2 separate regions of the Homo sapiens genome follow, and region 2 is linked to region 1. The links come from fine-mapping of genetic effects on gene expression. A gene starts in region 1. The other region holds a variant in brackets. All regions are shown on one strand. Distances are from middle to middle.

Region 1 (4,390 bases):
TGAGCCCAGGAGTTCGAGACCAGCCTGGGCAACCCAGGGAGACCCTAGGTGCATGCATGACGGTGCACACCGGTGGTCCCAGCGACTTGGGAGCCTGAGGTGGGAGGATCGCTTGGGCCCAGGAGGTTGACGCTGCAGTGTGCCATGATTGCACCACTGAACTACAGCCTGGGAGATAGAGTGAGACCCTGTCTCCAAAAACAAAACAAACAAAAACAAACAAACAAACAAAAAACAAAAAACAAAAAACCCAGTTAATAGGGTTGCTAAAAAGCAAAAAAGAAAAGGCAAAAACTGTTCCTGAACCTTCTGGCTCTTCCTGGATCTACCATTACCAGTGGAAGAATTCTGAATAATTCTTACTGAGATTGAAAGAGACACAAAGAATGAGTTGTGCCCTCTAGTTCTTAAAACCTTGTTTAATTCTACATCCCACGGTGTATGAAAATAAGCTTGCTCCTACAGAAAAGAGGTAATATAGAATGATACATAATCAGTACACTAGTAGTACCATATATAATCAGGGTAATATCAAAGGCCTAAAAAATTGATTATAAAAATAAATTCTCTCACCTGATCACAATTTTCTTCTACTTTGCTACAAACTTATTTTCTGGTAATAGGCCCTTTTGGCATTAGATGCAACAGAATCGATGAGTCAATTTAAATCGTTTTTTTTCCCAGTCTCTAAGCGAATGGTTGCATAAAGTCGTCTCCTTCACTAAAAGGGGAGTGTATGTAGGAACGTGATCATAAATTTTTCTTTTGGGGTGAAAGTATTTTGGAACTAGATAGAGGTGATGGTTGCACGACACTGTGAATGTCTTAAATGGCACTGAATTGTACCCTTTAAAAGGACTAATTTTATGTTATGTGGATTTTCCTTCCACTAAAAAACTGAACGGTGCGGCCGGAACACTGAGCTCAGTGAATTCTCTAAGTAATCAATGGTTGCACTCTGGTGCCCTCTGAGTGTTTGACCTTTCACCCAGAAAAGGCTGTAAACTCACTCTGGGAAATCATCTTTTGTCCTAAGAGCCTAGGCTTGCTAGAGGCACAGAGGGAGTTTCAAAGGCCTCAATCACCCAGGACACCGGCAAGTAACGCTTTGCGCGCCGCGGCCGTGACCTCGGCAGGAGCCGGGGGCTTTGTTGTCGCTGTGCTCGCCCTCTGCGAACGCTGTCGCCCCGACACAGCGGTCCTTCGGACAGCCTGGTCCCTCCCCACCCCACGCACCTCCAGGCTAGGACTCCGGGCCACCACCGGGAACCCCCGCCACCGGGCACGTTCAGCCTCTGCTTAACCGGAACGGCCGAACAGCGCAGGCCGGCAGGAGTGTGGAGGCGATCGGCCCCCGGGGACGCCCACCCCCGGGATCCCCTCCGGCCCGCACGCGGTTGCCGCGCGGCCTGACGGGAAACGTAGTTTCCGGGGCCAAGAGAGCAGCCCCGCCCGGGACTTGTTTATCGTTGCAAAGAGGGGCCGGAGGCGAAGGAGGCGGCGAGGCTGTGCGGCGGGTCGGAGCGACGCCGAGGTCTGACGTGTCCGCGTCCCTGCGGCCCCACTCCCGGCCGCCGTGACCTCCCCTTGCACGGGGCGGACACGAGCAATGTCACGGGCCCCGCCGCGCGCCGCGAGCACTCACCAGGGTGAGGGCTGCCCGGGTGGGCTGCAGCTTCCTCTTGCTCACAGCCCGGACAGTTGCCCGGACTAAGGAAGCCGACATCTTCGCCGTCCCGGCGCCCCGGTGCCTCGGGCCGAAGGTCGGCCGCCTCAGCTTCTCTCCATGGACACGGCGGGCGCATTGACGCCACAAGCTTCGGCGCACGGCGCCCTCAGTCCTAGCCCCGCCCCCCGCCGCCACCATTGGGTGAGTTGCATGAGTGACGAGCCGGGGGCGGGGCAAGCCGCTCGGGGCGGGGTTTTGCCGCTCAACGCCGGGGGTCTAGCAGCTGGGTTGCGCACGGTCTCCGGCAGTGGGGTTACCACGCTGCAGGGCGCAGGGCCCGGGAGGAATGTCTTCACCGCCGAGGACGGAGTCGGCGTGACGTCGGGGAGCGGGCGGGAGGGGGCGAGGAATGACCTCAGACCTGCTGACTCCGGATGCACGTAGCTTCACCACCTGCCCCCGGGGCAAGGTGCAGCGTCACCCCCTGCTTTAATACTCACCGTGACAAACACCATCATAGGCGGTGACACTTAAGGACGCATAAGTCAACCCTGCACTGGGAGCTTATGCTCTCAAATGCAGAGTGATCGTTCCGATGCCCAGACATCTACATCCATTTTCATTCTTCTTTTGTGGTCCAATTAGGCTGTTCTTAAGAGCATGGCGTTACCGCAGAGTTGTATAATCGCCACCCTCCACCCTTCTCCCCAGCGTGCTGTACTGCTGGGGATGCTGAAGGGTGGTGACTAATGCAGTTTTCATTCTGGTGCTGAACTGGGAACCAACCCTACTTGAAAATGTGACTGGGCAGCAGTGTGAATAGTCACATTTATAGCGAGCAACAATTACTCGATTTAAAACGTGTTGTCAGACCTTGTCCTGGCTGCTCAGGGGCTTAATTCTGCCTTTTGATGCAGTATTCCTGAGCACCAGACACTGCACAGGCGCGGTACCCAGGCATACACAGGAAGCCAGGTAAAGAGGGGCCAGGGAAGAATGAGATACTGGCAGGACAGGGCTAGCAGATGAAGAGAGGAGGACATCAAGACAGGTGGCATTTGTCATTGAAGTGCTAGAAGTGAAGGAAAAAGGGCAGGAGGGGTCTATGAAGCAGTCCTGGGGAGGACAGATTCGCAGTGTTTGAATGTGGGAAGAACTAATCAGTGAAACATTTTTTAAAGCCAAGTTTATCTTCGATCTCCTGCAGTTTCTGAAAGGATAGTTCAAAATTCCATCAAGTAGTTCTGACTTCCTGCTACAGAAATGCAATCGCATTGACAATAAGAGGACGCTTTTTTTTTTCCCCTAAGCCTTATCTGCACATAAACTGGGGGCCGGGCGCGTGGCTCACGCCTGTAATCCCAGCACTTTGGGAGGCCGAGGCGGGGAGATCACCTGAGGTCAGGAGTTCGAGACCAGGTTGGCCAACATGGTGAGACCCCATCTCTGCTAAAAATACAAAAATTAGCCGGGTGTGGTGGTGCACACCTGTTATCCTAGCTACTCAGGAGGCTGAGGCAGGAGAATCGCTTGAACCTGGGAGGCGGAGGTTGCAGTGAGCTGAGATCGTGCCACTGCACTCCCAGCCTGGGCAACGGAGTGAGACTCTGTCTCAAAAAAAAAAAGAAAGAACGGAAGATAGGAAGAGAGAGACAGACAGACAGATAGAAAGAAGAAAGAAAGAGAGAGAAAGAAAGAAAATAAAAGAAACTGGGGGCCGGGCGCAGTGGCTCACACGTGTAATCCCAGCACTTTGGGAGGCCGGAGGCCGGCAGATTACTTGAGATAAGGAGTTCTAGACCAGCCTGGCCAACATGGTGAAACCCCGTCTCTACTAAAAATACAAAAATTAGCCGGGCGTGTTTGCGGGCACCTGTAATCCCAGCTACCCAGGAGGCGGAGGTTGCAGTGAGCCAAGATTGCGCCACTGCACCCCAGCCTGGGTGACAGAGCGAGACTGCATCTCGAAAGAAAGAAACTGAAAAAGTGATGGGAGGGAGGAAGGGAGGGAGGGAGGGACATAGAGAGGTGGTGGTGTGGTGGGTTTGTTTCTTGGCCTTCATCTTTGACTACCTGGGGGTTTGGGATCTCATATCCTCCCTCCTACAGATATTGTGAAGATTAAATGAGTTAATACAGGAGAAGCCCTTAGAGGGGTGCAAGGCACACAGCCTCACTCAAATGGTAATTGTTAATGAGTATTTAAAGATGCCATGTATTGTGAAACTACTATAATGGTGGATAGATATCATTATGCGTTTGTCAAAACCCACACAATGTACACCACCAAGAGTGAACCCTAAGGTAAACTATGGGCACTGAGAGCTAATGATGTGTCCATGTAGGTTTAAGATTGTAACAAGTGTACCACTGTGGTGCAGAGTGACAGTGAGGCACATGTGGAAACAAGGGATATATGCAGTTCTGTTTTTCTGCTTAACTTTGCTGTGAACCTAAAACAGCCCTAAAATTAAAATTTAATAAAAATAAAAGATGCTGTCATTTTTTTTTCAGTTATTGACACATTACACAGTTGTGCAGCACTTTACAAGATTCAGAAAACTCCATGAGCATATTATATTATCTCATACTAGCCTCACAACTTTGAACTGAGTAGGGCAGAAGCACTGGCATGGCAGTTTTACAGATGCTGAAACTCAAGGATTTTAGTAGAGAGCATTAGACACTATTGAAAACATCTAGTCCTCAATTTTCTGATTC
Region 2 (4,390 bases), 160 kb before region 1:
TAATAAAATATTACTCAACATTAAAAAGAAAGGAACTATTGATACACACAACATGGATGAATCTCAAAATAATTATTGTGTGATAAGCCAGACAAAAAAGAGCAAATATCGTATAATTCCATTTATATAAATTCTAGGCTGGGCATGGTGGCTCATGCCTGTAATCCCAGTACTTTTCGGGGCATAAGCTGGTGGATCACCTAAGGTCGGGAGTTTGAGACCAGCCTGGCCAACATTAGTGAAACCCCGTCTCTACTAAAAACACAAAAATTATCCGGGCATGGTGCCACGTGCTTGTAATCCCAGCTACTCAGGAGGCTGAGGCAGGAGAATCGCTCGAACCCAGGAGGCAGAGGTTGCAGTGAGCTGAGATCGCACTACTGAACTCCTGCCTGGGTGACAAAGTGAGACTCCATCTCAAAAAAAAAAAAAATTCTAGAAAACACCAACTAATCTGTATTGAAAGAAAGCATATCAGTGTTGGAGCGTTGGCTAGGGAATGAGGAATGGGTGGGGAAGATCAAGAGGGAGGCATTGCCAAGGGGTCCAAGAAAACTTTGAGGGGGATGAAGATGTGTACTTTTTGAGATGATAGTTTTGCTGGTGTATACATCTATCAAACTATATACTTTAAATATGTGCAGCTTATTGTCTGTCAGTTACACCCCCAACAAAGTTGCTTTTTTTAAAAAAAAGGCGGTGGGGGGGTCGGGTGCGGTGGCTCAGGCCTGTAATCCCAGCACTCTGGGAGGCGGGGGCGGGTGGATCACCTGAGGTCAGGAGTTCGAGACCAGCCTGACCAATATGGTGAAACCCTGTCACTACTAAAACTACAAAAATTAGCTGAACATAGTGGCATGCGCCTATAGTCCCAGCTACTCGGGAGGCTGAGACAGGAGAATTGGTTGAACTTGGGAGGCGGAGATTGCAGTGAGCCGAGATCGCACCACTGCACTCCAGCCTGGGCAACAGAGTGAGATTCAGTCTCAAAACAAAACAAACAAACAAACAAACAATCTGTTGCCAGTTTCCTAGGAATGCTCTGGGCTTATTCTCTGCATTTTCCCACCCTGCCTCTCCCCTCCTCCCCCTCTCCTCTCCACAAAAGGGAACACATCACACAGGCTGTACTGCTCCTTACTTTGTCAGTCTCTGGTGTGTTTTAGGCTTATTCCATATCAGCACACAGGCTTTGCCTCATTCTTTTTGGTGGCTGTGTAGTTCTGACCTCAGTGCTCTAAAGCCATGCATTTAAGTGATTTGTCCTCTGCTTGTTCAGCTCTGAAATTTGTCATTACGCAGGCTTAACCCTGTATCAGTTAGGAGCCGCTTTTCTATTCCACCCTCTTATTGTTAATATGTGAGTCCAAGAGATTATGAGTTAATTGAGGGCAGGGACTCACATATCCACATCTCTATCTTCCACCAAAAAATAATGTTCTGCTCTGCAAATAGCAAATACAAAAAGCACAGCACAAAGTTCGCATCCAGCAGGCTTCATCCCAGCAGAATAAGCGAGAGGGACTCAGCACCAGTCAGTCCCATTTTGGTTAGTGAGAAGGTGGTGCCTTAGGGAAGAACACTGCATACTTCGAAGGCTGCTCTAGGGTCTGTAATCACAGCCCTCTGTGTTTGGGTTCATTCACACGGTGTTTATCTTCTGGGATTTGCTCCACAACACCCTTCAGGAAGGGTTTTGAAGGTTGTGGAAAAATCAGTGTGTGCAGCCAACAAAAGGGCAACAAGCCAATTGTGGTTATACAGGGCTGTTTTAAGAGTCAAGTCATGTTTGGGATGGGGGTGGGGTGCACAGTCTTGTATCAAGCATTTTCTGTAGCAGAGCTCAATCAGCATCTACAAGGCAGGGCTGGGCCACTCCTGCCTCTGAGCCTGTCTTCAGTAGTGGGTGCCTTTGTAACGAGCCAGCCTGTCCCCGGACCCAGGCAGAGTGACAAAACAGCTACACATTCATGAAGAACACTGGCTGTCTCCATAACAACCACGGTTAACATGACTCTGTAGAACTATGGGCGTGGCCCTTGGGTCTCCTGGCCTGGCTACCAACATGCCTGTGGCTTCTCA[T/C]TGGGCCCCGTGAGTGCTGGCAGGGCTGTGAAGCAGGTGTGACTAATGGGTCAGCTCCCCGCTGGGACTGTGACCCTGAAGCTAACAAACCTAAGGGCAAGGCCAGGCGCAGCAGCTTTCTGAGTCTCTTCTGAAGTGGCTTGAAGTCGATACTGTGTGTGTATGTAAGATCTAGCCTGAAGGAAGGCGCTTTGTTCAGTTGCTAACTTATTTTCTTGGTGGTAAGCTTTAGATATCACTTAGCTTTTATGTTTGCTTGTTTTGTTACAGATTAAGTAGCTGTCATAAGAAAAAGGACTATTTACTTACTATCTGGAGTCTTGTTCTGTTTGATACCCCTAGGCACATGTTCAATTCAGAGATAAGAGCCCTGGAAGTTATAGATTGCAAACAGTTTTTTCCCTGAAAACAAAACTGACATATTTATATACAATGATAAATACATAGATAGACTAATGATCAGTTTATGGATATTTGGCAATATGCCTCTCAATAATCATCACATTATTCATAATGTTTATAAATTCATAAATATAAGCGCACATTACAGCAACTTATTAACAATGTTCTATAAGCCAGAAAAGCACCATGAATACAAAATAAATTATTATAGTTCCTGAACAGTACTTTTACCTGCTAAATATTTTGTGGCCTTCAACAGCTCAGCCAGACAGTCAAAAGGAGAGCAACTTAGCAGAAGATTTTGGTCTAGCTGAGGATTCAGATCACTGAAGAACTTAAGTTTAGGCTGTTAAACAAAATTATGGGAGCCCGTTATTTTGGACTGAACTCCTGTACTAGGCCCCAACAGACGAGACCAAACCAAAATGGAGTCATTCATGCTAAATGCCTCGTCATCAAATAGAAGCTTTAAGGAAGCAGATAGATCCAACATAGACTAGTTTTTCTTGAGAACAGAAGATTCCAGTCTACCTGTGTCAGTGCAATAAGGAAGTCCTCTCTGCTTTAATTTTTACACAAAAAGTAACCTCATGTTAGCCAATCCGACTTTAAAATTTTTTTTTTCCTATTTCCTTGTTCTCACCTTACAAAACCCACTGTTCTGCTGCTGTCCAGCAGGAACCCTCATGCTGTTTTGTAGAATGGAAGCTGCCCTGATTCATGAATTGCAAATAAAAGCCAATTAGATCTATAACTATATTTGTTGGAATTTTGTCTTTTGACAAGACCAACTGGACCTTCCCTTTCTTGGTTAAAATCTGCAAGACTCTTCTTCCTTGGTCACACTGGACAATTGGCTTGTTAGAGCTGCAGTCAGGGGAACCTGGGAGAGACTCACCTTGCGAAGAAGACAAAGGCCACGGTGCTAATGGTGGTGGTGCAGGTATCCTGAGATGGCCAGAGCTCAGAGAAGTTCATGTCAAGAGGTGACAAGCCACAGTGAATTTACGGAATTTTTGTTTCTATGTTTATGGAAATTTATGTGTGCACTCATGCCGTGTTATGGACTGAATTGTGTCCTCCCAAAATGCATATGTTGAAACCCTAACGTCTAAAGTGACAGTATTTTGAGGTAGGGCCTCTGAGGAAGTAATTAAGGTTAAAGAGGTTATAAGAGTGGGGCCCTAGTGATGAGATTTGTGCCCCTGTAAGAAGAGACACCAGCCCTCACTATCTCTCCCTGTCCCTCTCTCTTTCTGTCTGTCTTTCTGCCATGTAAGGACACACAAAGAAGGCAGCCACCTGCAAGCCAGGAAGAGAGCCCTCACCAGGGACCAAAATGGCCAGTGCCTTGATTTTGGACTTCAGCCTCCAGGAGAGTAAGAAATAAATTTCTGTTTCTTAAGCCACCTAATCTGTGATATTTTGTTATGGCCATTTGAACTGACTCAGACAGCCAGGATCACTTATTTAGTTGTTCATTAATTTATTGATCCATTCAAGAAATTCAACAACTCTCTATTGAGTGCTTTATGTACCAGGCACTGTTTTTGGAGGTCAGGATGCATCAGTGACAGAAGACAAAAAGATTCCTACATTGTAAGCTTACCTGTAGGGACAGTAAACAATCAACATTAGAAGTAACTAAATCTGTGGTGATGATACTATACATTTTGTGATGTACCTTAACAGTACATAAATGTCTTTTACACCCATTATTGCATCTGACCTGGCAGACCCCGGGAGGTATGAGGAAATGAAGCCCACTCTCCAGGTCACATGGCTGGTACCAATTATAGTAGTAGCTAATAAGTATTTAGCTGCTTATTATGTGCTAGGAGCTGTTCTATGTGTGTGTTAACTCATTGAATCCTAGCAACAATTCTAGAAGTTGTTTTCTACAATA

Which allele goes with the higher level. Alleles are on the strand shown, and positions count from the first base shown. SD is a standard deviation of normalised expression in the study named.
As copies of C replace T in region 2, the expression in monocytes after LPS of the gene that starts at base 1,806 in region 1 goes down (large effect, 1.0 SD a copy in Fairfax 2014).

What was found. PIP is the estimated chance that this variant, and not a neighbour inherited with it, causes the effect.
Region 2: its variant is the best candidate, but not a certain one, in a credible set for the expression of ISCA1 in monocytes after LPS (Fairfax 2014, PIP 0.50).

The regions. Positions count from the first base shown.
Region 1 is chr9:86,280,733-86,285,122 of GRCh38, forward strand. ISCA1 (iron-sulfur cluster assembly 1) reads right to left here and starts at 1,806. Exons shown (of 4, transcript NM_030940.4): 1 at 1,646-1,806. The coding sequence starts at 1,726. It overlaps LOC124902194 (a long non-coding RNA gene), which reads right to left and starts at 1,349. Exons shown (of 2, transcript XR_007061634.1): 1 at 1,237-1,349; 2 at 1-721. RefSeq lists a silencer at 1,187-1,486 and enhancers at 1,657-1,806, 1,927-2,206.
Region 2 is chr9:86,125,466-86,129,855 of GRCh38, forward strand. LOC101927623 (a long non-coding RNA gene) reads left to right here and starts at 2,075. Exons shown (of 5, transcript NR_110996.1): 1 at 2,075-3,616; 2 at 3,765-3,863. The variant T/C (reference allele first, on the strand shown) is at 2,083.